Regions from separate parts of the Homo sapiens genome. Here region 2 is linked to region 1. Evidence: fine-mapped expression QTL. Tissue or cell type: whole blood. Region 1 holds a variant in brackets; the other region holds the start of a gene. All regions are shown on one strand. Distances are from middle to middle.

Region 1 (15,252 bases):
TTTGGCTCCACCATCAGTCTTTCTGAAGACATTTTCTTTTTTTTTCTTTTTTTTTTTTTTTTGAGACAGGGTCTTGTTCTGTTGCCCAGGCTGGAGTGCAGTGCCACAATCATGGCTCACTGCAGGCTTGACCTCCTGGACTCAAGCGATCCTCCCACCTCAGCCTCCTGAGTAGCTGGGACTACAGGTGTGCGCCACTATACCTGGATTTTTTTTTTTTTTTTTTTTTTTTTTTTTTTTAGACAGAGTCTTGCTCTGTCACCTGGGCTGGAGTGCAGTGGCGAGATCTCGGCTCACTGCAAGCTCCGCCTCCTGGGTTCACGCCATTCTCCTGCCTCAGCCTCCTGAGTAGCTGTGACTACAGGTGCCCGCCACCACGCCTGGCTAATTTTTTGTATTTTTAGTAGAGATGGGGTTTCACCGTGTTAGCCAGGATGGTCTTGACCTCCTGACCTCGTGATCTGCCCACATCAGCCTCCCAAAGTGCTGAGATTACAGGCATGAGCCACCACGCCCAGCCAGCTAATTTTTTTTATTTTTCATAGAGATGAGGGTCCCACTATGTTGCCCAGGCTGGTCTCCAACTCCTGGACTCAAGTGATCCTCATGCCTCGGCCTCCAAAAAAGTGTTGGGATTATAGGCGTGAGCCACTGCACCGGGCCCCTAAGACATTTTCAAGGGTAACTTTGACTATGCTCAATTTCTATCTGCAGAGCTGACTTTAGATTCAATTCCAGCTTTAAGAGGCTATGCCTGGTGTCTATGGTTACCTCAAAGTCATCCTCTATTAATTCCTTCTTTTTCATGAGCTGCTTTTTCTTCTTTTTGCTCAGATTCTGGTGCTCCACAATCTTGTTGTAATTGAAGTGTTTCTTACTGTCCTCGTCCTCATCCATCATAAGCAAAGCCATTTCAGCCTGTAGAGAGCAAAAAAAAGTTCAAATGTACAACAGTGCTTTTTTTTCCACCCCCAAAAAGGAGTATAGGGCAGAAGATATCTCTTCTAGAAAGGAAGACTCAATCACTAGAACTCTGGGGTACCACCTGTTGTCTGTAAACTGACTGTGGATTACCAAAACAAAGAGATCTTTGTATAGCAATAAGGTAGAATCTCTGGAAGCAACATTACTGAGAGCAGGAGAGGTAAAACCTTGTAGTTAAAAACCAGGCCCCATTTCACTTAGTGTGACTCATTAGTAGGCTGCAGGAACAAGAGTCCCCAACTACCCTCAAATAAAAAGTTCTCATTTTCACTTTGTTCTTTTTGCGCAATGATGCTAAATCTAGCAAATGTTTATTTTGTGATGCAAATTATACTTTCTAAATGTGTAACTTTTAACAAGTAAGTTTTTTTTTTGCTTTTTTTTTTTTGGCCTTTACTGTTTCAATACTGATACATTTCTATGAAGGTAGGACCTTAGGATCTGCTTCTGAAATCTAGTAAATGTCTTTTTACACTAAACGGGTATTTTCTACCAGCCATGGGATTAAACGAGAACCCTCAAGAATCAAGTAAATAACCATGTACACTAGTAAAAATACAGAGTATGCTCTCGACCTTTGTGGATCTTCCTATATTACCACTTTAGACTGCCTTAATTTCCTTTTGTCACTGGCACTTTTAGCTGGCTTTTCAGAGACATTTTCCATAAAAATTGATTTTCTTTGTTGCTCTTTAGATAACTTTATGTGGCCAGTCAGGCACACTTCTGGACAGTGACATGAACATCAGCCCTAGGGGCACTGCTGCCTTCAATTCCTGCCTCAGCAAAATCACATATGACTCTGTGCCAAAATTACGTGTGACTCTGGACATAGGGGGTCACTGAAGCATAAGGTTCACTGCATTTCCAAGAATGTAATTTTGTACGTTAAATATACATATTCACAATAAGAAAAACAGAAATTTGCATTTGACAAACCATAACCACAAACTGTATTCCAGGACAGATTCAGATTGAATTAAAACTTATGGCAATATTATTTTGAGGTTTTAAGGGTATTTTCTGCCTCAGGTATAGTAAGTGTTTTTAAAAGTGAGATAATTCCCTCTTAATTTATAAAAGAAAATAAATACCCTTGAATTTGAGGTTAATTTTAACTTTGTACAATTTGGAGAAATTATGTTTGGTAAAAAAAACACTGTATTTAGAAACTACACTGCTAAAATATTTAATTATGTCTCTTACAATTTAGTTATAAATGCCACTGCTAAAATAAGTTGTTTTTTAAAATTAGTGACATGTACAACTTCATTTAAATTGTACCTATGAATTATCCACTAAGCATGTAACAATAATCGTATTTTACCTTTTGTCTTTCTATTTCAATTTCTTCTTCTGGAGATGTGCCATCTTTTGCAGATTTTACCGATTTTTTATTTATACCTGGCACAACAAACCAACATAAGAGTGGTAAAAATTACAGGACTATCAGCAACATTCTGTTTATACTAGGAACAAAAATATAAGATATCTAGGAATAATCTTAACAATAAATGTGTTGAAACTAAAAGAAAAAAACACGTTACTGAAAGAAGACTGTGGGTATATGAATGGAATAAATACAATGCTTCTGCATGGAGTGACTGCATGTTACAAAGGAAGAATTTCTTTCAAAGTAATGTATAATTTACATTACCAATTAAAAAAGAAAAACCATAGATCATTTCCACAGATACAGAATAAGCATGTCCATAAACATAAGAATACTGATTAACATTCAACATCCATTCATAATAAAAGTAGTATACACATTTAATGAAATTCTAAATAAAAAATTCCATTCAAGGAAATCTTTAGAAAGATTACATAGATTCCATGTACTAGTGACATAGTGTATTAACGTGTACTGAAAAGTGAAAATAACCAAAAAATTCCTACACAATAAAAATGATGAAACAGTATATAATAAAATATAGCATCATCATTAGAAACAGAAAAGATTGTTTAATAACTGCTGTTGAGCAATTTGTTTCATTCTGGAAAAAAAGATCAAATTAAAGCCTTATCTCATAATACATAAGAAAATAAAACGCAGGTGAATTTAAGAGTTAAATATCAAACAAAATAAAACAAAGAACCCCTATGAGAAAATACAAGGGAACAGCTACTGTATCTTAAATAGAAGAAATATTTTCTTAGCATAAGAATACTGGAAGAGACAAAGAAAAAACCCCCAAGTGATTTGAATATATAAACTCAACACTATATATCAAACTCTCATCTGCAAAATGAAAAAACTTATCTTTATAATAATAATTTGACAGTCACTACCTGTAAATATAAGTTTTAAAAAACGCTTTCTCCTTCTCTGAAGACAAATCTGATCTTTAGTGAACTTTCTAGCTCTATTACCAGGCAATACCACCAGGTAAAGTGGTTCCTGACTGGAAAATAACATGTATTGGGGTCTCTAAATGCTTATAACTTTGGGCTTCCTTGATACCGTGACTCCTGTAACTGGTAAAACAGGGATCTGGAAGCTATGTCTAGGTGCTGTTAAAAAGCTCTCAGTTCCTATTTGGAACATGAGACTTCTCGCCCAGGGTGACTACTGTACACTGTGTCTCCTTTCCTTGTACCCAAGCTGTACTGCTGAGTGAACTGCCGTGAAGACTCGATGAAGAGAAACACCCAATACTGCCCTGCTGTGTTTCCTGGGCTAACTACCCATGAGAGCCAAGTGTGACCCACTCAAGCCTTTTGTTTGACCACCTAGAGAGCCTAAGAAAATCCCCCGCTGGGCACTGTACCACCCTCAGCAAGTCATCTTTGGAACAATATGAAATCCTATGCCCCTAGATGTGATATAATATGAAAGATAAGCATTGCCTATGAAGTATGCTTGCCAAAACCATTCAACATGAATCTAATGGAACCACTCGTCTAACTTCCAGTTTATGGAAAATATAGTGGACCGAGTGGCAAGGAACAGATACATCTAGAATATAAGACATTCCAAAAGATCACTAGCCTGGGTTCTTGAAAGGCAAATGTTATGGGAGGGGGAAGTGTATATGGTATCTTCTAGACTATAGTGAACTAAAAAGACTACTATTAAATATGTCTATTATATAGTAACATCTTGTATAAATACATTTTTATGATATACCATAAAAGTATATGCATACAAAAGTAAAATGGCAAAATGTTAACAACTGCCAAACACAGGTGCTGTTCACTGTATTATTCTCTCAATTTTTCTCAATGTATAAATTTTCATAATTAAAAACAAGAAACGGCTGGGCGCAGTGGCTCACACCTGTAATCCCAGCACTTCGGGAGGCCGAGGTGGGTGGATCACCTGAGGTCAGGAGTTTGAGACCAGCATGGCCAACATGGTGAAACTCTGTCTCTATTAATAATACAAAAAAATTAGCCAAGCGTGGTGGCCAGCACCTGTAGTCCCAGCTACTAGGGAGGCTGAGGCGGGAGAATTGCTTGAATCTGGGAGGCAGAGGTTGCAGTGAGCAGAGATTGTGCCACTGCACTCCAGCCTGGGCAACAGAGCGAGACTCTGTCTCGATAAAAAAAAAGAAAAGAAATGACTGCTTCTATTATAATACTAATATCTTTCACTTATAAAGATTTCATGTAAATGAAAATATTAACACAGAGCAAAGAGAATTCACAGACAAAACCAAATGGTCAATAAACAGAAGGAAATTATTTCGCCTATCTCACAAATGTTAACTGAGCACTTATTATGTTGCGATCACAGCTCCAGGTGCTGGTGACACAAGCCGTGAACAAGAGGTTAAAATCGTCTCTCATGTAGTATACCTTCACGTTGGGAAAGACAGAGGCAAAGCAGGACAGAAGGGTTGGAGACTGAATGAGGGGGCTGGTTTTGTTAGGGTAGTTAAGGAAGGCCTCTTCAAGAAGGTGACACACAAACAATGACCTGGATGAAGCGAGGGAGGTGATATGTGAGAACACCTGAAGAAGGGTGTGGCAGGAGAAGGGAATGGTCAAGATGGTTGAAGAATTGCAGCTAATGGGGTAACATGATAAGCAAAACCTAAAGTCAAAAGAGGCTTTAGAAACTCCTCTGTGTGTATTAAGTCCCTGCGAATACTCTTGCACACCTGTCCAGTAGACATGCCCAGCCAAGAGAACATGCCAGCATAAAAGTGCTGCCAGGCTTGCCTATCAGTGCTACCAAGCCATTTGTTTTGCACTTCCAAGAAGAAATATTTATTGTATGCAGCCCTTCTCCCTAGAGAAAATGCTCCTCATCACTGGTCCTATCTGAAATTTTTTTCAGGGAATAATATACGAATCTTAAGAGTATAATCTTTCTCTGTCTTAATGTATGTGTATGTCCTTACACATATAAATATCATCAAGGTTCCACTTGCTTAGGGTATGAACCCCCCATTCCCTAAATTTACCACTGCTCCTATGCTCTCAAGCCAAGAGCTCCTTTTGAAATGAATGGACAAATGACATATGCAAAATATTATTCTGTAGCAGGGAGAAAATTAGACTGTATATAATTAATATTTAAAGCAGATAAAGATCTTCACATACAGCTGTGGAAAATAATTTCAAAAAGCCCACAATAAACTATTTCAGATTTTATAACAACCTGGTGAAGAGTCTTAAAAATAAACTTGAAAGGAGGACTGTAATAAGGGAGAAAGAAAAAAAAATCCCCAAGATAGGGCTAAACATGATATCCGGTTTTAGCATGAAGAAAATTTCTTTGCTAACAAAGAATTTACTATGATGTTAGACTGAATTGTTTAGTGAAAAGATAAACAATGCATACAGATGATTTCTGCACTGTTAATAAGATCAAATATTAAGAGATCACATCTATATTTTTTTAAAAAACATTTTTTCCTCCCTGGAAAAATTTCAGACTTAAGTTAGATGAACAGTACTAGGGAAATGAAAGTTTGTGTTCTAAAATATTGTCTTTATTTTTCAGTCAATCTTTTGTCAAGTAAGGAACCACATCTCTAGCTGGGTGTGGTAGCTCACACCTATAATCCCAGCACTTTGGAAGGCTGAAGGAGGAAGATTGCTTGAAGCCAGGAGTTTGAGACCAGCCTGAGCAACAAAGCAAGACCCCAGCTCCACATTTTTTTTTTTTAAATTAGCCAGGCATGGTGGTGTATGCCTGCAGTCCCAGCTACTTGGGAGGCTGGGGCAAGAGGATCACTTGAACCCAGGAGAGTTCGAGGCTGCAGTGAGCCATAATAGCACCACTGTGCACTCCACCCTGAGTGACAGAGCAAAATGCTGTCAAAAAAAGAAGAAAAAAAAAAGAAACTACATCTCCTGGGACTGCTGCAAAAAATACATATGGATTGATTCTATTAAGTCAATACTAACAGAGACTCCGAGTCAGATATTAGAGTTTTACAGTTAAATAAATCTAACCAATCCTTACTGAGGCTAGAATCCTTTTAGGCAAAAAATGTAACAGAATACATCCATGGAAAAAGATAGTGTGTAAAAATAAAATTCATCTGTAAAGGAAATTTCATTTCCCATTACTTATAATGTCAGAGACTTGTTCCCATAATAAACTTCCTCCAGAGGGTTTAGTTGAGCAATTCATATGAGAGAAGCTAAGAAAGTTCACTGGAGGGCAGATGGATGTGGTCTCAGTACTGACCAGATGGGAGTGGTAAGCGCCCTAGTGATTTACTCTTTTGTACCAAGTTCCTGCATCACTTGCCCATAATCAGATGCAGTCTGTTAAGGATAATCTCCCTCTAGGGTTAATCTCCCTCTAGGCTACCACATTCTGGTGCTGCTTTACAATGTTGTAAAATTACAAAAAATAAAGGGAAGCCCACTAGGACTCAGATTCTACCAGCTACCACTGGAAAATTAGCAGATTTTTCTAATATTTCATTTCATTTTCAGCTCATTAATGTGCTCATCCTAGATGATATTTTTAAAACTCTCATTTGACACCAAGTTTGCAATTTAGAAGGAAATCAAAGAAAAAATTATAAAAGATAGAAGAAAAAATTATAAAAGATCTCTAACATTCACCCTGGCACCTAATCTGAGCCAAACGCCAGGTCTGGCATCAATGAACTCATTTCCTCCACATTTTGAAGGCACATAAGTTTAGCTCTATGGGATTGCCTAGAGCAAAAATGTTATAAATGTACCCAAGTCATCTGGTTTACAATGTTTTTGTCCTGTTTAACTACAGAACTTGAACTGTACACTGAAAACACTAGTGTGCCAAATTCATTATATCTTAAATATTTTTGAAAAGCAAGGTCTATATCCTTAGATAATGACTATATTTTACTTCCACCAGGTACTAAAATCTAAAATTATTTTGACAAACTAATAATGAAGGCAACACTGTAGTAATAAATTAATATACCAATGTAGGTCATCTGAGTTATTTTATTTCTACATTTTAAAAATTACAAACTGGCTGGGTGTGGTGGCTCACGCCTGTAATCCCAGCACTTCTGGGAGGCCGAGGCGCGCGGATCACCTGAAGTCAGGAGTTCAAGACCAGCCTGGCCAACATGGTGAAACCCTGTCTCTACTAAAAATACAAAAATTAGCTGGGCACAGTGGCACACACCTGTAGTCCCAGCTACTTGGGAGGCTGAGGCAGGAGAATCGCTTGAACCCAGGAGGCAGAGGCTGTGGTGAGCAGATACTACGCCACTGCACTCCAGCCTGGGCGACACAGTGAGACTCCGTCTCAAAAAAATAAATAAATAAAATAAAAATAAAATAAAAATTACAAACTGGTAAATTTTGAACCAAAGTCCAACTCTCTTTAAGAGTACCTACTACAGATCCTTA[T/C]ATCTGGAAGGCACACAAAAAACTTCCAACTTCTTCCTGACTCCCTATGGGAATCCATTTCCCTGAGGTTATAAGCATGCTTCCACCTATCCTTAAAACCATCCTCCTGGATCATGAGTACAAAATGTTAACATTCAATATATTCTTCCTTATGTCTTCTGGATACTGTTAAGCACAAATTTAGTTTTTGCTGGGGAGGAAAAGGTTCAGAATTGAGTAAAAACTTCTCATTAAATCCATCTATTTGAGCATATACATGATATATATCTAACACATATTTTAAAAGTCCAGTTATACCATAGGAAGTCAGATTAAAATGTAAAGTATGGGAAAACTGTATCATTCTCATATATTTAAATATTTTGTAACATGCTGAAAGTCATATGGGAGGACTGGGTGATTCTGACACTCAATAATTGTTGACTGAATAACCACGTACATGAATGGGGGCACACAGCTTTGTAATGTGCCTTTGAAAAGCCATGTCCAGCATGATTTAAAAGGGACATGCTCCTTTTGTGGCTCAGCTGGTTCTCTCTTTCTCTGCCTAGGCCTCCCATACCGCTGCTCTTGCCACATGTTCTATGGTTTTGTATCTGGCCTGGCCTTCAAATTTATACGCCCCATCTTTCTCCATTTTCAGCCATCCAGACCTGAACACTCTCCTTAAAATTGACAATTAATTGAATCAACCGCCTTAGGCAGTAACCTCCTGCACCCTGCCCCCTCCAGTGACCTGTTTCTACGTCCCTACCCTATCTGCTCATGCAGATTATCTGTGCTTCTGCAAGTGAATGAACAAACAGTATAAATCCATAAACCAATCAGGTAAATCCCTCATCCTTCTGCCACCAAATATACAAATTTATCTGCATTTGTATTTACTTTTATTTCCCCCATTTTCTGTATCTTAGTAACTTCTTTTCTGTTGGAACAATCCCAAGGGAAAGAAAACATGCCCTAAAAGCTCATATCTTTAAAAAAATACCTTCTCCTTACCTACATTCAGGTACTGCTCCACGTCTTTGCTCCCCTTCACAGTGAAACTTCTGAAAAAAGATCTACATTCTTGGTCTCTACTTCCTTACCTTTCACCTCAAACTTTAACCCACACTAATCTACTGAAACCTCTACCACCTCACCAAGTGTCTGTGAGCCACTACATTAATACTGTTCCTCCTATTTCCCAGCCGCCGCTTCTCAGCTTCTTAAGCTTTTCCCATCCTTTCAGGTAGCACTTCCTCCAGTATGACAGATTAACAGTGCCTCATGTGGACTTCACCTGACCTTAGGGCCCATCCTGCATCCTCTTCTCTTATCACTGCTCTCTACTCGCACTGCCATGGTTTGAAGTACTATTTACATGCTACTGATCCTTAACTCTATATTTGTACTCTGATTTCTCTGCTCATCTCTCAGACTTATATCTCAATATCAACCAAACACCTCCATTTGTATATCTAATTGACATCTCAAAGTGATTATACCACAAATGGACGTATTTACTTTGCTTCCCACTCAAACTTATTGTTTCCACATTTCTTCCTCAGTAAATGGAAGAACATTCTTCCATAGACTCAAACCAAAAACAGAAGTTATGCTAAATTTCTTCCTGATTTAGCAAGTATACTTCCAAAGTATATCTAGAGTTCCATTCTCTTCTCCATCCAATTCCACGAGCGGCATGCCAGGTAAACAACCATTATCTTTGGTCTAGAGCTCGGCAAAAGTCTGGTCTTCCAGCCCTCACCAGTCCTCAAACTGTTCTCTTCACAGGCACCAGAGTAATATGTTAATCTATACCAGATTATGTCTCATCTTTGCTTAAAGACTGTTTGGGCTTTCCACTATCAGTAAAGTAAAATCTAAATTTGTTGTCAGGACAACAAAGCCCTACAGGGGTAGTTTCCACTGAGTCTCCAGCCTGTCCTCATACCAATTCCCTCTCCGACAATGCTCCAGCCACACTGATGTCTTTCAATTCTTAACACCACACAGTGCATTCTCACCTTGGAGTCTTTCTACCCACTCTCCCCTCATTTGCAATGCTCTTCCCCCAGCTCTTCATGCCTGACTCCTCATTCCACAGGTCTCAGCTCTAATGCCATCATCTCAGAGAAGCCTTCTTTGCCTACCCAATGTAAACTCCCATATCTCCTACTTCTATCCAGTTATATCTTCTATTTCTTTCCTTGAAAACATTTACCATACCCTCATACTATTTATCTGTCTAACATGTCTTTCTTTAAACCAGACTCCATGAGGGATGCAATCCTGTTTGTATTATCACTACTGTATCTCTAGCCTAGCAGAGAGCTCAGCACCTGGTAGGCAATCAAAACAGTTATTACAGAATGAATAAACAAACATGGCAAGACACTAGCTTTTTGTCCTAAATTTTATGTAAAAAATTCTGGCCTTGCTGTTTTGCTTTTTCAAAACAAAACAAAACAAAACAAAACAAAACAAAACCCACTGCAAAACACACACACAAAAACAGAAAAGCCCAGATAGAAACAATTACCCTCTGGGAACACTCTGAAATCAAAAGTAAATTATAAGCAAGCAAATTTTATCTATACCTTTTTTCTTTGGAACTTCTGATAATAACTTTACAGAAAGCTTACTCTCAATTTAAATGTGTTGATTCCAAAAAACTGGCTACCCCAAGCCATCAAACCATTTAACTTATTCTTTGAATCCTATTCTGAGTTCTGCAATTTGACCAGACTTCACATGCCAAAGGAAACATTTTGGATAGAGAACAAGGAAACTATAATGCTTAGCATTTCTCCATTATAAAGTTGGTTTCCTGAAACCAGAGGATAAGGCTAAAATCCATCATCTTCTAGAAATGACCACTCAGGTATGATAAAAAGCAGAATATGCTAAGTTTCCACTTCTCTGTCCAATTCCCAAGAATCTCACATTCTATAATAGACTTTATTTATCTTAATCTCCTTCTCATCAATAAAATGTCAGTACTAAAAAGCTGTAACAATCAGGAAGTAATTTTGAGCAATTCTGACTTTCCTGTTGAGAACTATTCTGGCCCACTAGTCACAAGGGAAAAAAACAGGGAAACTTCATAAACTCCTTCTCTTTACAATGCCAGCGTGGAGTTGCTCCAGGAGCAAGCCTTTTGGGGTTCTTGTGTGTGGTATAATGATCGGGGAAGGCAAAATGCATGAGAACAAATGGTAAATCCTTACAGTGATTTCTGTACTGACTTACCAAGTATGGCCTGAACCTTACCAAACACATTTACACATACGCATTTCCTCCACATAATGGAGGAAAGAAAGAATGAGTAGTGCATATGAGGTGGAAACAAGGCTCCCTGGATATAGGAAATCAGATACCAGATAATTTAGGGATTCAAGGAAAAAGAGGAGTAAGGAAAGCTGGCTTTCTAGCTATAATTAAGCATAATGAGTACAAAAGGGATAAAATGAAACATAGATGCTTTTGTATGTTTCAGCAGAAAAAGCTTTTATATGAAATTTCATGCATAAATTTAAAAAAATTATACACATATCAACATGCACATAAAAACAAATTTGTTTCATACTTTTAATTCTTGATAGACTTTGCTGAGAGGGACCTAGAATGGATACGCTATTAAAAATCAGTGAAAGTACACAAGAAAATATTTATTCCTCTTTCTATTTCCTCTCATTCTTTTATAGAGTCGATCTGACTGGCACTAAGGATATTTCCCAGAAAGGAATCCCCAGTAAACTATTAACCACATTATCAAAAGTCTCCTATATTAAAATTATCCCTTGTATGTAGAAGGGACAAGTTGACCCTTCCCAATCAGATTAATGACTGTATGCCACAGGACAGACTTGCTTATGTCACTAAGGGAGCTACACAAATACTAGCAATTTTAAAAGAATGATTAGTTTATATTGCTTCCATGTACCTCACCTTTTTCTTTAGATTCCAGTTGAAAACTACAGATATGAGCTGGCTTACCTATTTGTTTAACTTCTTCAGCAAAGTATGGGTCATTCAAATCAACATCAGAGGGAAGTTCCTCTTCACTGGCCTCTTCAGCAAGAGCCTTAAAAGTTGAATATAAAAATACAAAATTTCATTATTACAAGAATTATAATAAATGTATACCAAGAAAAACTATGCATTTCTTTTAAACCAAGTAGTTCAATCTAAAAGTAAATCAGTGGCCAAGCGTGGTGGCTCACGCCTGTAATCTGAGCACTTTGGGAGGCCAAGGCGGGTGGATCACGAGGTCAGGAGTTTGAGACCAGCCTGGCCAACACAGTGAAACCCCATTTCTTCTAAAAATACAAAAAAATTCGCTGGGCATGGTGGTGCATGCCTGTAGTCCCAGCTCCTCGTGAGGCTGAGGCAGGAGAATCACTTGAACCCAGGAGGAAGAGGTTGTGGTGAGCCGAGATCGTGCCACTGCACTCCAGCCTGAGCAACAGAGCGAGACTCCATCTCAAAAAAAAAAATAATTAAAAGAAAAAAAAAGTAAACCAGTTTTTAAATGGACCAGTTTATAAAACAACTCCCACCTAAGTTATTCTGTTTGTTCAACAAATAATTATAGAGGCTGGGTGCAGTGACTCATGTCTGTAATCCCAGCACTTTGAGAAGCTGAGGTGAGCAGATCACTTGAGATCAGGAGTTTGAGACCAGCCTGGCCAACAGGGTGAAACCCCATCTCTACTAAAAATACAAAAGTTAGCCAGGCATGGTGGTGGGCACCTCTAATCCCAGCTACTTGGCAGGCGAGGCAGGAGAATCGCTTGAACCCAGGAGACGGAGGTTGCAGTGAGCCAAGATGGCGCAACTGCACTCCAGTCTGGCGACAGAGCGAGACTCCGTCTCAAAACAAACAAACAAACAAAAAATATAGAATACTTAATAAATGCAGGAAACCATGTAGGCCTTTTGGGAGAAATGGAAGTTATCAGATACATGGTTTCTGCCCTCAAAAATTTTACCATCTATTAAAGGAAATCAGACACATAAACACATAAATAGACAAATACATAAATAAAAATAATTCAAGATAGGAAGGGTTAGGAGGGACAAAGTGATGCAGACATTTGAAGGAGAAGATCTGAAGGAGAAGAATACTTTTAGATGGGTGATCAGTGATGGGAGGTGGCATTTTCTCTCATAAAACTGAAAAATGATAGTGACTGAATTACTTGAAGTAGTGCACTGTGAATTATCTCTTAAATTATTAGTTACAACAATTTATTTGTTGGTTAAAGAAAAGAATTTTTATTATGAAAATCTAAAACATACACAAAAGTAGGACAATGTAATGAACCCTCTGTTCTCATCGCCCAATTTTAACAATTATCTTGTTTTATCTATAAGCCACCCCTAAAAACTGTCAGGCTATTTTTAAGTAAGTCTGTTGGTTAAATTTTTCCTAATCTAATTTGAACAGACTTTTTACTAAATTAGCAAATTTAAATAAAGCAATCAAATCTATACAATAAATAGAACACATGTGAACTAAGATCAGGCTAACCAGACTGAATTTATCTCTAGCAATCTAAAACATCTCAAGTCATTTAAACAAAAATATTTAGAATGCCATTATTGTTAAACATCCTGCATGCAAAAAGAATCACTAAAGCCCTAAAGAATATTTATTTTGACATTAATGTCCTTTTAAGAACAAGTGCTTCTGGCTTTTTTTTTTGAGACAAGAGTTTTGCTCTTGTTGCCCAGGCTGGCTTGCAGTGGCGTGACCTCAGTTCACTGCAACCTCTGACTCCCAGGTTCAAGCGATTCGCCTACCTCAGCCTCCCAAGTAGCTGGGATTACAGGCGCCTGCCACCACACCTGGCTAATTTTTTGTATTTTTAGTAGAGATGGGGTTTCACCATGTTGGGCAGGCTGGTCTTGAACTCCTAACTTTAGGTGATCCGCCTGCCTCAGCCTCCCAAAGTGCTGGGATTACAGGCGTGAACCAACACGCCTGGCCAAGAACAAGTGCTTTTTTTTTTTTTTTTGAGACGGAGTCTCACTCTGTTGCCCAGGCTGGAGTGCAATGGCACGATCTCGGCTCACTGCACGCTCCACCTCCCGGATTCATGCCATTCTCCTGTCTCAGCCTCCCAAGTAGCTGGGACCACAGGTGCCCGCCACCACGCCCAGCTAATTTTTTTGTATTTTCAGTAGAGACGGGGTTTCACTGTGTTAGCCAGGATGGTCTTGATCTCCTGACCTTGTGATCCGCCCGCCTCGGCCTCCCAAAGTACTGGGTTTACAAGCATGAGCCACCGCACCCAGCCAGAACAAGCGCTTCTAAGAATTTTTTTTTTTTTTTACCAAACTATTTTATGGATTCAGCAGTAACATACTTTTAACAAAGAATATTTGCTATGTACCTACTCAACACATTTCTTTAACTGCTTTATAGATCTCAACAACAGCTAGATCAAAATACTAGATAACACGGCATATATCAGGTATTCATTTCTTCAGTAATAATTTTTCAGTATCAAAATTGAAACCACTGAGGAACAAATGGGCAAAAATATTTTTAACTTGAAGAAAATTCTTGAAACTCTTCTATATACAAAGAACCTGTGGAGTTGGAAAGGATCTGTTGGAGTCAAGGCCGGTACTGAGTACTGTAGGGTCTAGAACACCCTGGACACTCAACAATGTATTTTGAATGCTGCTGACCAACGAGTCCAGACTTAGCCCAAATGAATGGAAAAAGTAAAAGCACAAACTCGAAGCTCCCAGCAAATGAAAATCAAACTGAATAGCTGCTACAATTCTCAGAATGACTACTTTATTGACCCCATGAGGGCCCACTTGAGACATCTCCAATAAACTGATAGCTTAACACTTGTGGAGTTATTTCATTTATAAGATATTTTACTCACTTTGGGAGGCCGAGGCGGGAGGATCATGAGGTCAGGAGATTGAGACTATCCTGGCTAACATGGTGAAACCCCGCCTCTACTAAAAATACAACAAAATTAGCCGGGTGTGGTGGCGGGCGCCTGTAGTCCCAGCTACTCGGGAGGCTGAGGCAGGAGAATGGTGTGAACCCGGGAGGTGGAGCTTGCAGTGAGCCGAGATCAGGCCACTGGACTCCAGCCTGGGCGACAGAGCGAGACTCGGTCTCAAAAAAAAAAAAAAAAAAAAAAAGATATTTTACTGCCTACTGAGTTTGAAAAGGAGTTCTAGGGAAGAAGAGAGTTAGTTAGCACATCAATGGGAGCAGGGCTCTTACCCCACGTGGTGTTACATATATATTATTTTCATACATGGTTTCTGGCTCATAAGTTCCTTAGCCCTTGCTATAGTCTTTTGTGTTCGGTCTTAAGGGCAGGACTGTACTCTTCCCTCACCTTTCTAATTGTGCATCTTAAGACCTTCCCCAGAGAGGGTCCTGCCCTGTAGTTGTGGGGAAGGAATGCTGGCATCATGAAGCTTCCATAA
Region 2 (14,921 bases), 60 kb after region 1:
ATGGAAATCCTAACACATGCTCACATCACGCAAGTAGATCCAGACATTCATTCAATACTTAACAGTGTGCCTGCTACGTGCTAAGTGCTCAATATACAACAGTTGGTAAAAGAGAAGCAAACAGTGCTCTCAGTGAAACTTCTAGCTGAGTGAAAAGAATACATGGATATCAAATAAAATCAATATATAGGAAAAGTTAAAATCACAACTAAGATATCCCAGAAAGAATGTTTTCTAAGGGGATTTAATGGGGTCCCTAAGTGAGTGATAACTGAGCTGTTACTTGAAGGATGAACAGGAGTTAAATAGTCAAAGTTAGACTAATAGATGGAAATTTGTTTGAAAGAGCAAGGAAGGTACCTGTAAAAATCTGCCAATAGGAAAAAGCCAACCATCATGTCCAGATCACAGATAGCACAGAATCAAGTAACAAATGGAAATGAAGAGTTAAGTAGAGGCCAAGCTATCAAAAAACCATATAGAGAGCTTGGACTTTTTCATAAAAGCAATGGGAAGACACTGCTGTTTTCAAAAAAGAGGATGTCATCTTCTTTTGGATATTGTCATCCTCAGACTTGCATATTGAGGAGATCACCTTGACTATACTGTAGAAAACTGACTTGGGAAAGTAAAGAACAGATGTGAATATAGTAAAGGTAGTACAGTACAAAAAGCAAGAAATGAAGGTAGCACTAAGTTGGGTGGCAGTATGTATGCAGAGATGTACATGGATTTCAGAGTCAGTCAGGAAGTGAAACCAATAATTACCGACTGGAGATTTGACACGGGGACTGGGAGTTTTGGAAGTGTCAAAGATGAGTCATAGCTTCTTAGCTTTCAGAGCTAGTTAGCTAAGAAGATGGAAAGATGAAAAGGGAACACTGGAAATGAACTAGTTTGTTTGGTGGAGGGAAATCATGAGTTCAGTTTTGAATATGTTGAATACGAAGTGCCACTCAGTCATCTAAAAGAAAGTATCAATAATAAGAGTGTACAGCTCAGAGAAGTCTGGGTTGGAGATCAGTGACTCATTCATACGCAGTTGACAACAGAAGCTGTGATGTGGATGAGATCACCTATAAAGACAGAGAAATAATATTTATACTTTTTCTGCCAGGTCTTGAACTTTGTAATCAACTGTCATGATTAGCAATACACCAAGATTGAAAGACTGTTTTTGCTTAAGATGGAAATTTTAGTCCTCACAACTCTGAAAGGGCTCATTTCCTACTTCTAAAGCAATCACAGGCTTCTATCTACTTGGTGTGTAGATATATCTTACGTGTTTTACTCATCTTTAAGTTGGAGCTTATTTTCTGCTTACAGGCTCTAAGTTTGGAAAATTAAAAGCAAATTTAAAAGTTCAAGATTTAGAATGAAATTGGAACTAATTTTCTCTTGGTCCTATAATCTTATAATAGTTATTCACTGACCAAATATTTACTGAGTATCTACTACATACAAAGAATTGAGCTAGGATAAGGGAAAAGAGAGAAGATTTGTAACACGATCTCATGCTCTTGATGGATTCATAAATAAAAGGTAACCATTTACTGATTTATAAATCTATGTTCTCAATCACCATACAGTGAGAGACATCTAAATTTGCCTGCAGAGAGGTATTTATAAAAAGGCTTCACAAAGATACAACTTGACTTGAGACTAACTGAATGAAAAGGCATCTTGTTAGAAGGAAAAGCAGGAAATGGGCTTTTATGTTACCACCACAACGAAGCAGGGATTAATAAAAATAACTAGCCAATAGAAGTGAAAAGCGCCAAAATGAAAGCATTGTCACAGGTTCTATATATGAGATCTGAAAAACACAACATTGAAAGTTACTATGAGGTAAGCAGAATTTACTTTTAAGCAACAAGCTTAGAAATAACATCTTACAGACCCAGTCTATCTAGTATTGCAATATTTCTCAACTGTCAGTCATTATACCATTTTCATGATTTTTGAATATCATTTTTTTATTAAATTGAATTTTTTAAAAGTTAGTTTTGCTCTAAACAATATTCCTAAAGTCACAGAAGTGATAGGGTAATTACATTGTTTTCTAAGATGTTGACACAGTACATAACTATTAATATTTTAGAAGTTTGAGTATCATCAAAAATCTTCTCACTTATGACAATGGTACACATACCACACTTTGGGTTATATAATAATAAAGTGTTGCATAAGAGACTTAAAGAGGTCTTCCATTTCAATGTTTTTAACAATATCAACTGCATTCAGAGTATTTATTCATTCAATAAGTATCTGCAGCCGAGCACAGCTGCTCACGCCTGTAATCCCATCATATTAGGAGGCCAAGATGGGAGGATCTTGAGCCCAGGAGTTTGAGACAAGCCTGGGCAACATGGCAAAACTCTTTGTCTCTACAAAAATACAAAAATTAGCTAGGCATGGTGGGGTGCACCTGTGGTCCCAGTGACTCGGAAGGCTGAGGTGGGAGAATCACCTGGGCCCAGGAAGTTGCGGCTGCAGTGAGCTGTGATTGCACCACTGCACTCCAGCCTGGGCAGCAGAGCGAGACCCTGTCTCCAAAAATAAAAATAAAAAACCCCAAAAAGTATCTGCTTAGAGCCCACAATGTACACAGCCTTGTGCAAGATAATGTGGGGTTACACAAATATAAATGTCTCTATTCCTAGACAGTATTGCTCTAGTAGTGACTGTAAACATTACTACTTATCCAGCTACTTCAAACAAAAAACAAAAAAAAACCAAAAAAACTGCTTTACCATTTTCCCCCAATTATAAACATAATGAATGATCATTACAAACCAAAAAAAGTTAGGAAAATATGGTTAATAAATAAAACAAAGGTGACTAGCAGTAATTTTTCATTCAAAGATAACTGGTTATTTTAGTATACAACCATATCCCTAAATTTCTTTTCTTTAATTTAAATACTAATTTGTTTAAAATAACTGGTCATATCGTTATTTTGGAACCTATTTTTAAAACTTCATAGATCACAGATGTTTGCATATATTTAATTAATCTCTTAATGATTTGTTACCATTTTAATTTCTATTTTCATTTTTTGAGACAAGGTCTTGCTCTGTTGCCCAGGCTGGAGTGCAGTGGCACGATCTTGGCTCACTGCAACCTCTACCTCCTGGGTTCAAGTGATTCTCGTGCCTCAGCCTCCCAAGTAGCTGGGATTACAGGTGTGCACCACTATGCCCAGCTAATTTTTGTATTTTTAGTAGAGACCGGGTTTTGCCATGTTGGCTAGGCTGGTCTCAAACTCCTGACCTCAAGCAATCCACCCGCCTCGGTCTCCCAAAGTGCTGGGATTATAAAGGTGAGCCACTGTGCCCAGCCAGTTACCGTTTTATTTTAAAAATAATGCTGCAATGCACATTCTTTGCACACATCCAATTATTTATGTAAAATAGATTCTGAGGAGTGCAAGTGCTGGGCATGAACATTTCATGATGACAAATATCACACTGCAAGTCCTCACATCACCTTTACTTCACAGCACTTAAAAAGGCCCTTGCACACAGTAATTGCTGTAATAACTGATGAATGGATAATGAACAGAAGATTATATATGGAGCCGTGTAATCCTTATTTATGAGTAATGCCTTTCCTAGACTGTGGAACCAACAAAATTACTGCAAGCAATGTGGTGGGGTAGAAGGAGTCAGAAGACTTGAGTTGCAGTTCCAGGTCTGCATGTCCTTACATAAGTCACTTTAATCTTGTTCGCTGATACAGTCTTATTGCTCAAGGTAACTAAGAAAATTAAATGAGAAAAGATATGTAAAAAAGTCTGTAAAATCAATCTAAAGGATTATATAGCTATGTTATATTAATTCAGTGCCCCAAATGAAGTGGATGCTAGACTAACTTACCTCACTAATTCAGTGTCAAATCAACTTTGCTGCCGGTCCCACTCCAATCTTATTCTTCAATTTTAGTAACCGGATTCCTATCCTTTCTTCCCACACCTCAAGAGGTCTGCTGCCTGGTTCCACTACAAATGTAAAATGGGATACCACCACTGACTCCCTAGTCCTTGCTATCCAGAATTCACTCCACTGCCTGATACCTTCTACCCTCACAGTGTGATCTCTGCTTATCAAGACCTCTTGGCCTATCAAAACCTCTTGGCCTATCAAGAACTCTTGGGCTATCAAGACCTCTTGGCCTATCAAGACCTCTCGGCCTATCAAGACCCCTCCTTGGATCCTGTAATCACAGGTCTGGCTCATGTGAACTACTACTGGTTTTCAGTTACATCTTCAACTATCAGCAACATCAACACTCAAAATTGCTTGCTGCTGGAGGTGACAAAAAATTTTAATTAGTAAACACGTAATGCAAACTAGAGCCAGCTGTCTCTCACCTAGTTCCAAACAATCATTTCTCGCTGCTACTCATTTTGGCCCTTCAAGACCTTATTATCTAATCAAACGGGACTACTGACCTCTTCTGAACATGCCCAATCACATCTTTGCTCAAAAAGTTCTTTCCATGTAGCACACTCTGGTCCTCAAACTTAAATTTTTCCACACCCCAAAGTAGTGCGTCCCCTATGAATTTTTCTGATTACCACATCTTGAGTGACTTCTTCCTCCAGATTTCCATGGCTTTCTGCTAAACATCTTTTACGGCACTTACTATTATTGCATTTTGTATTATGGTTCTGACTTTCTTCTACTTTAGATCTATATTGTCCAATATGGTAGCCAGTAGTCACATGTGGTAACGGAGCACTTGAAATGCGTTTTGTCTAACTTGACATTAATATGAAAATAGTATTAGTATGAAATGAGTAGAAAATGGGATGTAAAATATACATTGACTTTTATATTGATTACATATTGAAATAATTTTGATATATTGGGTTACATAAAATATATTATTTAAAATAATTTTACCTGTTTCATCTTACTTTTTAATGTGGTTACTAGAAAATCCAAAATTATGTATTTCTACTAGACAATGTTGCTTTAGACAGGGGCCACTGCACAAAGTTTAGCAGGCTGTTATCCGCACAGGGGCATTTATAAAAGGACAAGAAGGGCTAAAATCAAGGCCATCCTACACTCACCAAGCCATGCACTCTGGAGGGGGCTGTGTCTGCTCAGGGGCAAAAAATCTGTTGCTTCAAAGGCGCCATCTCTTCACCAAAGTGTGACCCCTGGGAGCTCTGTGTGTCCAGAGAGCATGCCTTTTTCTAATTTGCATAAAGGCATCATATAAGCTAGCGACAGCCCTGAGATGGGTGACGACGCCTTACTCATATTCTGCCTGCCACATACTAGTGGCAAAGCAACTGAACAAATTAATGAATGAGTACTCAACTCTACTTACCCTCTTATTTTATTTTTGAGACGGAGTCCTACTTACCCTATTTATTTTATTTTACTTTTGAGACAGAGTCTCGCTCTGTCAGCCAGTCTGGAGTGCAGTGGTGCAATCTCAGCTTATTGCAACCTCCACCTCCCAGGTTCAAGCAATTCTCCTGCCTCAGCCTCCCGAATAGCTGGGACTACAGGTGTGCGCCACCATGCCTGGCTATTTTTTTTTATTTTTAGTAGAGATGGGGTTTCACCATGTTGGCCAGGCTGGTCTTGAACTCCTGACCTCAAGTGATCTGCCCGCCTTGGCCTGCCAAAGTGCTGGGATTACAGGCGTGAGCCACCATGTCCGGCCTACTTACCCTCTTTAGACACATCTCTTCTTATCATGTGATGACATATAACACTTTATCTGGTTAGAGAATATAGTTCTCATTAGGGCTCACCACTAATCAAAATCACTGTTTAACTTCAAGATTCAAATTTTCATGTCTGTCTTCTAGCACCACATCAAAAATTAATAATCACTGCATATTTCTTTTATAGCTTTGTATTTCCAGATAAGCATTTGACCATTCCATAATACTATGAAAATACTTATTAATGTGTTTACATTTTTGAAAGATCAGTATAAAAATAAATAATGTAACACCCAAGAATCTCTAATTTTTTCCAACCTACCTGATTGCATTTCTCTTCTTGTCTTAGAACACTCGATTCTGGGAGATTTCACAATTTCAGAGGTGCCTGAGTCTAATGTCCTTTGTTTTTCTTCGAGAGAAGAGTCTGTAGTATGTTGAACAATGTTTTTTTTCTCTTTCTTATTTTTTTGTGTAAATTCTTTGCTATCCTTCTTCGGACTTATGTTTGAATCTATCTTAAATTTACATGAGGTTTTCATTTTTTTAATTCCTATAGAATTATCTAAATCAGTTTTATTTTCAGAACCCTTGTGATTAGCCTTCTTGGTTTCTTTCTTTTTCTCAACTAGATTTTTTGAATCGATTTCTTTTTTAGTCTGGGTTTTTTTCTTCTTTATTTTCTTTTGACTCAATGCTTTGCTATCTTCACCAGAGAGATTGGAATCAGAATCTGAAAGGTCGTAAAAACGCTTCAAATCCTCTGTAGTGCTATGGCTAATGGGGCGCCCTCTTTTATCCACGGCATAGTTCAACTTGAACTTCTTGTCATGAAACATGGCTCGAAATCTCTTGTCAATTTTGACTTTTCGATCCTTTTCTGGCATTTCCCAAAATCTCGGGTCCTTTGCAACCCGTCTAAACCGCTGGTCACTCATTATTTCTTGTTTGGATGACATTTTTAATTCTTAATCTCGACCAAATGCTTGAAGAAAACAAATACTGAAAAATAAAACAAATGTTTTAATGGTAATAATGGTTAGTACAATAATTAAATGTTTTAAAACACATTCACAATATATTCTAAGTTAATATATTCTAAGTTAAGTGTACATAAAATAGAGGTAACAAGTCTAATTTCATCTCTCCAACGTATTCTGGGTCACATGCAAAAAAGCAGAAACATACCAAAATATCCTCTTTCCATGACAGATCATTTAGAGAAATAAACTTAAGGTAGACAAAGCAGAATCCCAGGGCTTTATGGAGGGGAACAAATGTTTATTCATCCATTGCTCTCACTTAGAATTTCTATTTGTATACCAGTATGTGTTACTAATTGAAGGCAAATGTAGTTAAGATTCCCTAGGCCGAGTGCGGTGGCTCACCAGCACTTTCGGAGGCCAAGGCGGGCGGATCACTTGAGCCCAGGAGTTCAGGACCAGCCTGGGTAACATGGTGAATCCCCACAAGAAATACAAAAATGAGCCCGGCATGGTGGCGCGCGCCTGTAGTCCCAGCTACTTTGGAGGCTAAGGCAAGAGGATCACTTCCACCCGGGAGGTCTTGGCTAGAGTGAGCCTAACGGCACTACAGCACACCAGCTGGGGCAACAGAGTGAGACCCTGTCTACCAAAAAAAAGTAAGAAAGAAAGATTCCCTAGCCTCCGTTGGCCTCATTTGTTTCTTCACATTCTGGTCTCATTCTGCTTACTCCTTATCTCCGGCTACTGCCAACAAACAGCCTTTAGTTCTGTAAGACTAGCATTCTAACTAAACAGACCAAAATCAACTCAGGTTTAGCTAAGAAAGTTTCCTTTTTAAATTCGATCATCCTTCAAAAGTAATAAAAAGTTTAAAAATAAAAAGTAAATTTGAGTCTCCAGGTAAAGTCTCACACCAGTTAATAAATATCACTTCTTTCTATAATATCTGATTCTACCAGTGATGAAGGCCCAAGTGAGCTCATTCCCCCAAAACATACTAGAACATATACATATGTGTGTATAAATTAATATTGTTCCCTTGTGAAAAGTCTCCAATGGTTTAGCATCTCTGGATGGGAATTTTGCAAAGAGCCAAAAGTCGTTGATTATTAAGCAACCCCCCCCCAAAATGATTAAAAGGGCAATATTTCTTATTTAAAAATCAAGTCCTTTTAATTACACTAACTAGGAAAAAAAAGGAAGCTATCGCTGGTGCATTTACACATTTTTCGATGTATTACAGCACTTAACTCTCTGAGCAATCTTACGAGGTAGGTACCACCTCAACCAGGAGAAGTACTGCATGTATTGTAAATGTTTAGAAGGAAAGCACTCATTATATGTCAGATAATCCGAGAGAGGGGAAGGCGACCGGACCTCACTCCCGACACGCGCCCGCATCCCCGTAGCCCACCCTCCCCTTCTGCCCGCTCTCTAATTCGGAGAACACAGGGCTGGCCCCTGAACTAGGGTCTCCTTTCCACCTCCTGTACCGCAGGGGGGCAGCTAACAGACTGATTCGAGAAGCGACCCTGAAAAGGATCGATGAAGACTGAAGAATGAGACCGAAAAAGGCTCAGGAGGAAGGGGCAAAACCCCTCGCAGATCCGAAAGAGATCCTGTTAGAGACTAGTTTTTTCCCCGCGCCACACACACACACGCCCTCAAGCCCTTCATCTCGAGCTCTTCAACTCCAGTCCATCCCCACTCACCGTCCGCAGTCCTACCAAGCCTCACGTGGGGCTCACACCCACAATCCTCCGCGTGACGCTCCGCCGTAATGGCAAGCGAACTAGGCCAAACTACTTGCACGTTCCCTCGAGAAGATCTTTGGAGTAGACACAAAAGCCGCGCTGGCGCATGCGCACAAAAAGCGCCGGCAATTGGGGTCGCAGCTGGAGATGCTGCGGCCGGCAGGGCTCTGGCGCTTATGTCGGCGACCTTGGGCGGCGAGGGTCCCAGCGGAGAATCTTGGCCGTAGGGAAGTCACCTCTGGTGTCTCTCCCCGCGGTAGCACCTCGCCCAGAACCCTGAATATTTTCGACCGGGATTTGAAAAGGAAACAGAAGAACTGGGCAGCCCGGCAGCCCGAGCCGACCAAATTTGACTACCTGAAGGAGGAGGTGAGCCCGCGGGGCGGCGGGGCGGCGGGGCGGGCGACGCGGAGGCTTGTTTTCCTCTCCGCTAGTTCCGGCTAGGCCCCGAGCTCACCCCACCTAGCCGTCTGACCTTGACCAGCAGCCCTGCCTCTTTCGGCCTCTACTGTAATCACGCAAGGCCTGGCCTCGGATATTTGTAACATGCTTTCATTCATTCATGCATTCATTTCGGCAACGTCCTTGAGGCTGAAAGGACCTTATAGAGGCCTCCAGTGAAGCTCCGGAGAGGGAGAGAGTGGGAGAGAAGGTTAGGAGGACCCAAATCATCAGGGCCTTGCAGGATAGGGACTTGGGGTTTTCTTCTGTATCTGCACTGTCCAGCCAGTATGGTAACTGCCGGCCACACATGTGGCTGTTGAACACTTGAAAGGTGACTAGTCCAATTGAGATGTGTTGTAAAATACACACGAGTATAGTGACTTAGTATGAAAAAAGGATGTAAAATAGCTCATTAAGAGCTTTTATATTGATTACATGTTGCAGTGATTATTTTTGATATATTGGGTCACATGAAATATATTAAATATAAATTTAAATTTTTCAATTAAAATTTCTCTCGTTTTTACTTTTTTTCTTATGTGGCTACTAGAAAATTTGAAATTACATATGTGGCTCTCATGATTTTTGGTCAGCACTGCTCTAGGGGAATGTGAAGCTCTTGTTTTAATCAGTGGAGTGATCTGACTTATGTTTTAGGAAGATCAAATTAAGATTTCTGATTTGTCTTGGCTCGTTTGAGAAACCTTTCTCCCTGCCCAGGTGAGCCAGAGACTGAGGGTTTCTACTTTCAGGACACGCATTCTCAAGTTCAGGCCTCAGTAAATTTTTATTCAGGAGTGGAACAAAGTTGGAGTCAAGTATAATGCAACAAACAGTTATTGAACTCATAGCTTGAGCAGAGCTCTGTGCAAGTACAGGTCTGATCAGATGATTGACAGGGTGTCTTTCTCAGGAAGTCTTAGGCTGGTAATGTCTATTATAGGAAGTTTACTACCAATAAATTTTTTGTGTCTCACTTGTAAGGCATGGTGCACGTACTACACTGCTGATGTCGTGTACTTAGAAGATGTGCGCTCATAGCCCTTTCCCTCCAAAGAAAGCACCTGGACTACAACTTGATTGAGGCCTCGCCAATTTGTGAGACTAGAACAAATAAGATAAAGTATATGAGAGTTCTTTTTATAATAAACATAGGGTGTTCATATTAGGAATGACGTACAAGGTGGACTCCTGGGAAAAACATCTACGCTCCCTTCTCCCTTGCCCTTCTCTCAAAAAGCAGGTACATCTGTGTTTGGAACTTTTAAGTCCTAAGAGCAACTCTGGGGTGTTTATGAGGGAATGAGTGGAATGTGGGGAATACTAGACTCCCACGTCTTTATTGCTACCAGATGAAGCTAGGCCAGCAAAAGGTGGTGCTTACCTTATGACTCTTAAATTGGGATGGGATTGGAGCAGGGGAGGTGCACTTTCCTCAGATTTGGCTTTTTCTAACTTGCGAATGTCACTCAGAAAAGTTGTTCATTTATGAGTTCCACAAAATTTGTTAGTCATCAAATAATAGAGTTTTTCTTAAGTGACCACTTACATACTCATCTACAATAAACCCCAACTAACTAATTTTTCACTTTGTGTACCTCATGCTAATATCCGTGGACAGTAATGTGCCTGTTGTGTTCCTTTTGCTTTTCATCCTTGTGATCTTATGTCACATGGAATGTAAAGGCCACATATATATATGTGTGTGTGTGTGTGTGTATATGTATATTTTTAAGAATATTTAGTCTGGATTTCATGAAATTGACTTCTGAAATAATTTGCCTCAATTTTGTTTCCTGGTGGTTTGAGAAGAAAGTTCCTGTGGTGAAATTGAAAAGGGGATAAAGGGAAGTACTTATTTTAAAACATAAGTAACTTGTGGATTGTTGAATACTGGAAAAAGAGTGTTACTTCCCCGTTAACCTACGCCTCGTGTAATCCTTCAGGTTGGAAGTCGGATCGCAGACCGTGTATATGACATACCCAGGTAAGTGGTGGTGATCATAATACAATACCATCAACTTTTGAGTGGAAATTCAGGAGATTAAATGCTGAGAACTTGCTATCTGAAATGGCAGAACCTGGAAGAATTTACTCAGACTGGTGATTTAAATCACTCTGTAAGTCTCCTTTTTCTTGTCTGGAGAGCAAATGTTTTCTTCATTGTTGCCTGAAAAAAGAAAAGAATGTGTGGAAGCACAACTCGTATCTATCTCCAAGCCTGAATCCACTTGATTTGGCCAAAAGCAAGTAATAGAAAGATTGCTCCAAAAATGGAGATACTTAACAACATGCGAATTTTTAACATCCGAAGCCTCTGTACCTAACTGTGCCATATTGCCTGTGTTCATCATCAAGATATAGGGCATTAGGTAAATAAGGTTATCTACCACCAGGGATTCTCCAGCTATGTACTATAATTTTGACAAAGCTTTTTAAAAACAAATTGCAATGGGGCTCTTTTTGTTCCAGTTTTTCAGGAAGAATGTTCTTAGTAGATAAAATTTTAAGTTTTCTTATTATAGGTTTTTTTTTTTAAACCTATGGCCTACAATTAGATGTCTGTACCAATGTAGCATAACATAGTGTATTTAGAGGAGACAGCATGGCATGGAGGATAATAGTTCCAGCTCAGGATTCAGACTGACCGAATTCAAGTGTTGACTGCCCCTTGTTAGTTGAGGCACTTGGTTTGACTTACTTAGCTTCAGACACTTAGCACAGTACTTTGAACCTGGTACGTTTTCAGTAAAAGTTTAACTGTTACTTAAGTTCTTATTTTTTAGTTTAACATTAATACTTAATGGTATTTCACATGATGATTTCTAAGTATTCCACTGCTTCAAGAAGTCTGAGAAATAGGGATAATTATTGATAAGTATGTCAGTTATTTTCAAGTTAATTTACATTAGCTTCTTTGCATTCTTTATCTGGATGTATTATTGAGTTAAAATATCCTCATTAAATCTGTTCTTCGAGTCCACATCATGGAGCCACCTGGTGGAAAGCTGGCTCATCACAAGGTCCTGTGAATAGCTAGCAGACAGACTTGCCTTGTACTGTAGGCTCTGGTATATACAGCTTGTAAGGTGAGGCTGAAAAGGCAGATGATGTAACCTTCTGGAAGTTGTGTTTACTGGAATGATTTTACCTAAGAAAAAATAATTCTTAATTTATAGACTGTGTTATGGACAGAGCATAACCTCTGTGTCTTTTTTTTTAGAAATTTCCCCCTTGCTTTGGATCTTGGTTGTGGAAGAGGTTACATTGCACAATATTTGAATAAGGTATATTTATTCAATGACCTAATTTACTTTGAAAAGTAACATTGGCTAATTTTAAAGAAAGACTTTCCTAATCAGTTTAGCTTGCAACATATTTAGATTTTAATTATATCAGAATTGTTAATTTGTTTTTTTTTTTAAGTGGTAGAATCAATGGTGGTTTTCTCCCTTCTTTAGAATTTTTTTCTTAAAGGGTTTTTCTCTGAATCCATTATATATTATGTTTCTACCGATAATTTATTTGAATCTATAGAAGATATATTTCTCTTTGTTCACATTTTTTTATAATTACCATAAAAATCAGATTGGCATTCATACAGAAAATGTGACTTTTAGCTAGAAAAATATTAATTTTATCAGTTGATTAGAAATCTTTCTGTATCATTAAATATAAGTAGCTTTATTAATGCTTATAACATTGTATTTTGCACTTTATAATTCAGACCATGAAGACATTAATTTATTCTTTTAGCTCCTATCTATACGATATTGTGCTGGACACAAAGATGAAAGTGGAATTTCTTTTTTTTTCTGAGATGGAGTCTCACTCTGTTGCCCAGGCTGGAGTACAGTGGCACGATCTCGGCTCACTGCAACCTCTGCCTCCCGGGTTTGAACGATTCTCCTGCCGCAGCCTCCCAAGTAGCTGGGATTATGGGGGTGCACCACTATGCCCTGCTAATTTTTGTATTTTTGGTAGAGATGGGGTTTCACCATGTTGGCAAGGCCGGTCTTGAACTCCTGCCCTCAGGTGATCCGCCTGTCTCGGCATCCCAAAGCGCTGGGATGACAGGCGTGAGCTACTGCGCCCAGCCTTAAAGTGGAATTTCTTTTTTTTTTTTTTGAGACAGAGTCTCGCTCTGTTGCCCAGGCTGGAGTGCAGTGGTGCAATCTCAGCTCACTGCAAGCTTTGCCTTCCAGGTTCATGCCATTCTCCTGCCTCAGCCTCCCGAGTACCTGGGTCTACAGGTGCCCGCCACCACGCCTGGCTAATTTTTTGTATTTTTTAGTAGAGACGGGGTTTCACCGTGTTAGCCAGGATGGTCTTGATCTCCTGACCTCATGATCTGTCCGCCTTGGCCTCCCAAAGTGCTGGGATTACAGGCGTGAGCCACCATGCCCAGCCTCATAAAGTGGAATTTCTACGTAAAATCTGCTTAGATAAAACCATAGACTTGGGCCAGGGTGAGGAAGGGAGTGGTGGGGCTCCTAAAACACTATTATTGGTAATAGTAAATGCCATAGAAATGGTGCAGTCATTAAAGTGCAACAGGAATTAGGGGAAAAGAAAAAATCAGTAGGAGTTCATGTGGTCAAGGATTCTCAGGGGGCACAGAATCTGACCTGGGATTTGAAAGAATTTGAGTTGGTGGTTCCTAGCATTGGAAATCAGGGCATGGCAGGAGGAAAGGCACAGAGGTAGAATGCTGTAGGGTGTGATATAGTGATGTTTAAGGAAGATTAATCTGGGGATGGCATTCGAGAAAGATTGAAGAAGAGAAAGGGTAGAGAAACCCATCAGAAGGCTGTGTTAAAGGCATTGCAGGCATGAGAAATAAAGGCCTGCCACCCATGCAGAGCCAGCACATATAAATGATGGGATGTATGAGAGAGACCTGGAAGTATCAACAGAACTTGATGACTGATCAGATATGGTAGGCAGAGCAAATCTATTCTTTTAGTAACTCAACGCCAAAAAACATTTTTATTGATTCCTCTTATATCCTTCTCTCCCACATCTAATCCGTCAGCAGCTTTTATTTGCATTTCAAAATATAACCAAACTCTTATGTCTTCTTGCCACCTTCCCCATCACCGTGCTGTTCAGCTATCATCGCCCCTTGCCTAGATTATTGCAGTAGCCTCCTATTGGTCTCCCTGCTTTACCTTTGTCCCTGACAGTCTGTTGTCATGGCAAAGTATCCTCGTAAAACACAAATCAAATCATTGTCAGTCCTCTGCCCAGAACTGTTAGTTTGTCATCTAGTTTAGTAGTAATCCAGAGTCCTAATCTATAAGACCCTCAGGATTCTGTTTTTTTATCATGTCTCTGATCCCATCTTCTTCCTTTCACTCCCAACTTTTCAGCAACCCTGGCCTCCTTGCAGTCTCTCAAACAGGCCAGAGCTTTGCTCTATGCTCTTCCCCAAGGTATCTGTGTGTCTTAGTTGCTCACCTGTCAGATCTTTACTCAGCTGACTTCATCAAAGATTCCTCCCGTGACTGCTTTAGAAAATAGTGCCCCTGCTTTCTGCCGACTAGTTGCTTTATTTGCTTCCATAGCACTTACAAGCTCCTGATGTATGTTTATTTGGTGTCTTTCTTCTCTTACTGGATTTGCTCATTTTTGATCACTACTAAATCCTAGTACCTAAATCACAATGAGTATTTATTAAATGACTATTGCAAGATAACTTTAGAGTTTAAGTTACACCTTTTGTGACTGGAAAATTCAGGGGATGTGATGTGGCAAGGAGCACGGGATCATTCCTGTTTTAGATATGTTGAGTTTGAGATGGCAGTGGAATATGGTAGTATAAATAGCTGGCAGGTAGTTGGAAATGTGGAACTGGAATTGGGATATTGAGGTTAAGAGCATTGACTTGAAGTCAGGGCTTCAAACTTCAGCTCTGCCACTGTCTGTGTATACTCAGACCTTGGGCCAATCAATTGCTCTAGACCTCAGTTTCTATAAAATATGATCAATAATACCCATCTCAAAAGGTTGGTAAGGGGATTAAGTGAGGCAAAGTAAACCTGTCAA

Evidence for each region.
Region 2: it holds the start of NDUFAF5, and the variant in region 1 is fine-mapped to the expression of NDUFAF5 in whole blood (TOPMed, PIP above 0.99).

What each region holds. Positions count from the first base shown.
Region 1 is chr20:13,716,597-13,731,848 of GRCh38, forward strand. ESF1 (ESF1 nucleolar pre-rRNA processing protein) reads right to left here. Exons shown (of 14, transcript NM_001276380.2): 11 at 11,782-11,869; 12 at 2,312-2,388; 13 at 772-918. Among named protein-coding and RNA genes, the nearest start is that of ESF1, 61 kb to the right of the region's middle. The variant T/C (reference allele first, on the strand shown) is at 7,801.
Region 2 is chr20:13,776,493-13,791,413 of GRCh38, forward strand. It overlaps NDUFAF5 (NADH:ubiquinone oxidoreductase complex assembly factor 5), which reads left to right and starts at 8,536. Exons shown (of 11, transcript NM_024120.5): 1 at 8,536-8,798; 2 at 10,820-10,860; 3 at 12,097-12,160. The coding sequence starts at 8,577. ESF1 (ESF1 nucleolar pre-rRNA processing protein) reads right to left here and starts at 8,427. Exons shown (of 14, transcript NM_001276380.2): 1 at 8,388-8,427; 2 at 6,012-6,691. The coding sequence starts at 6,648. RefSeq lists enhancers at 8,472-8,761, 8,757-9,446 and a silencer at 11,858-11,997.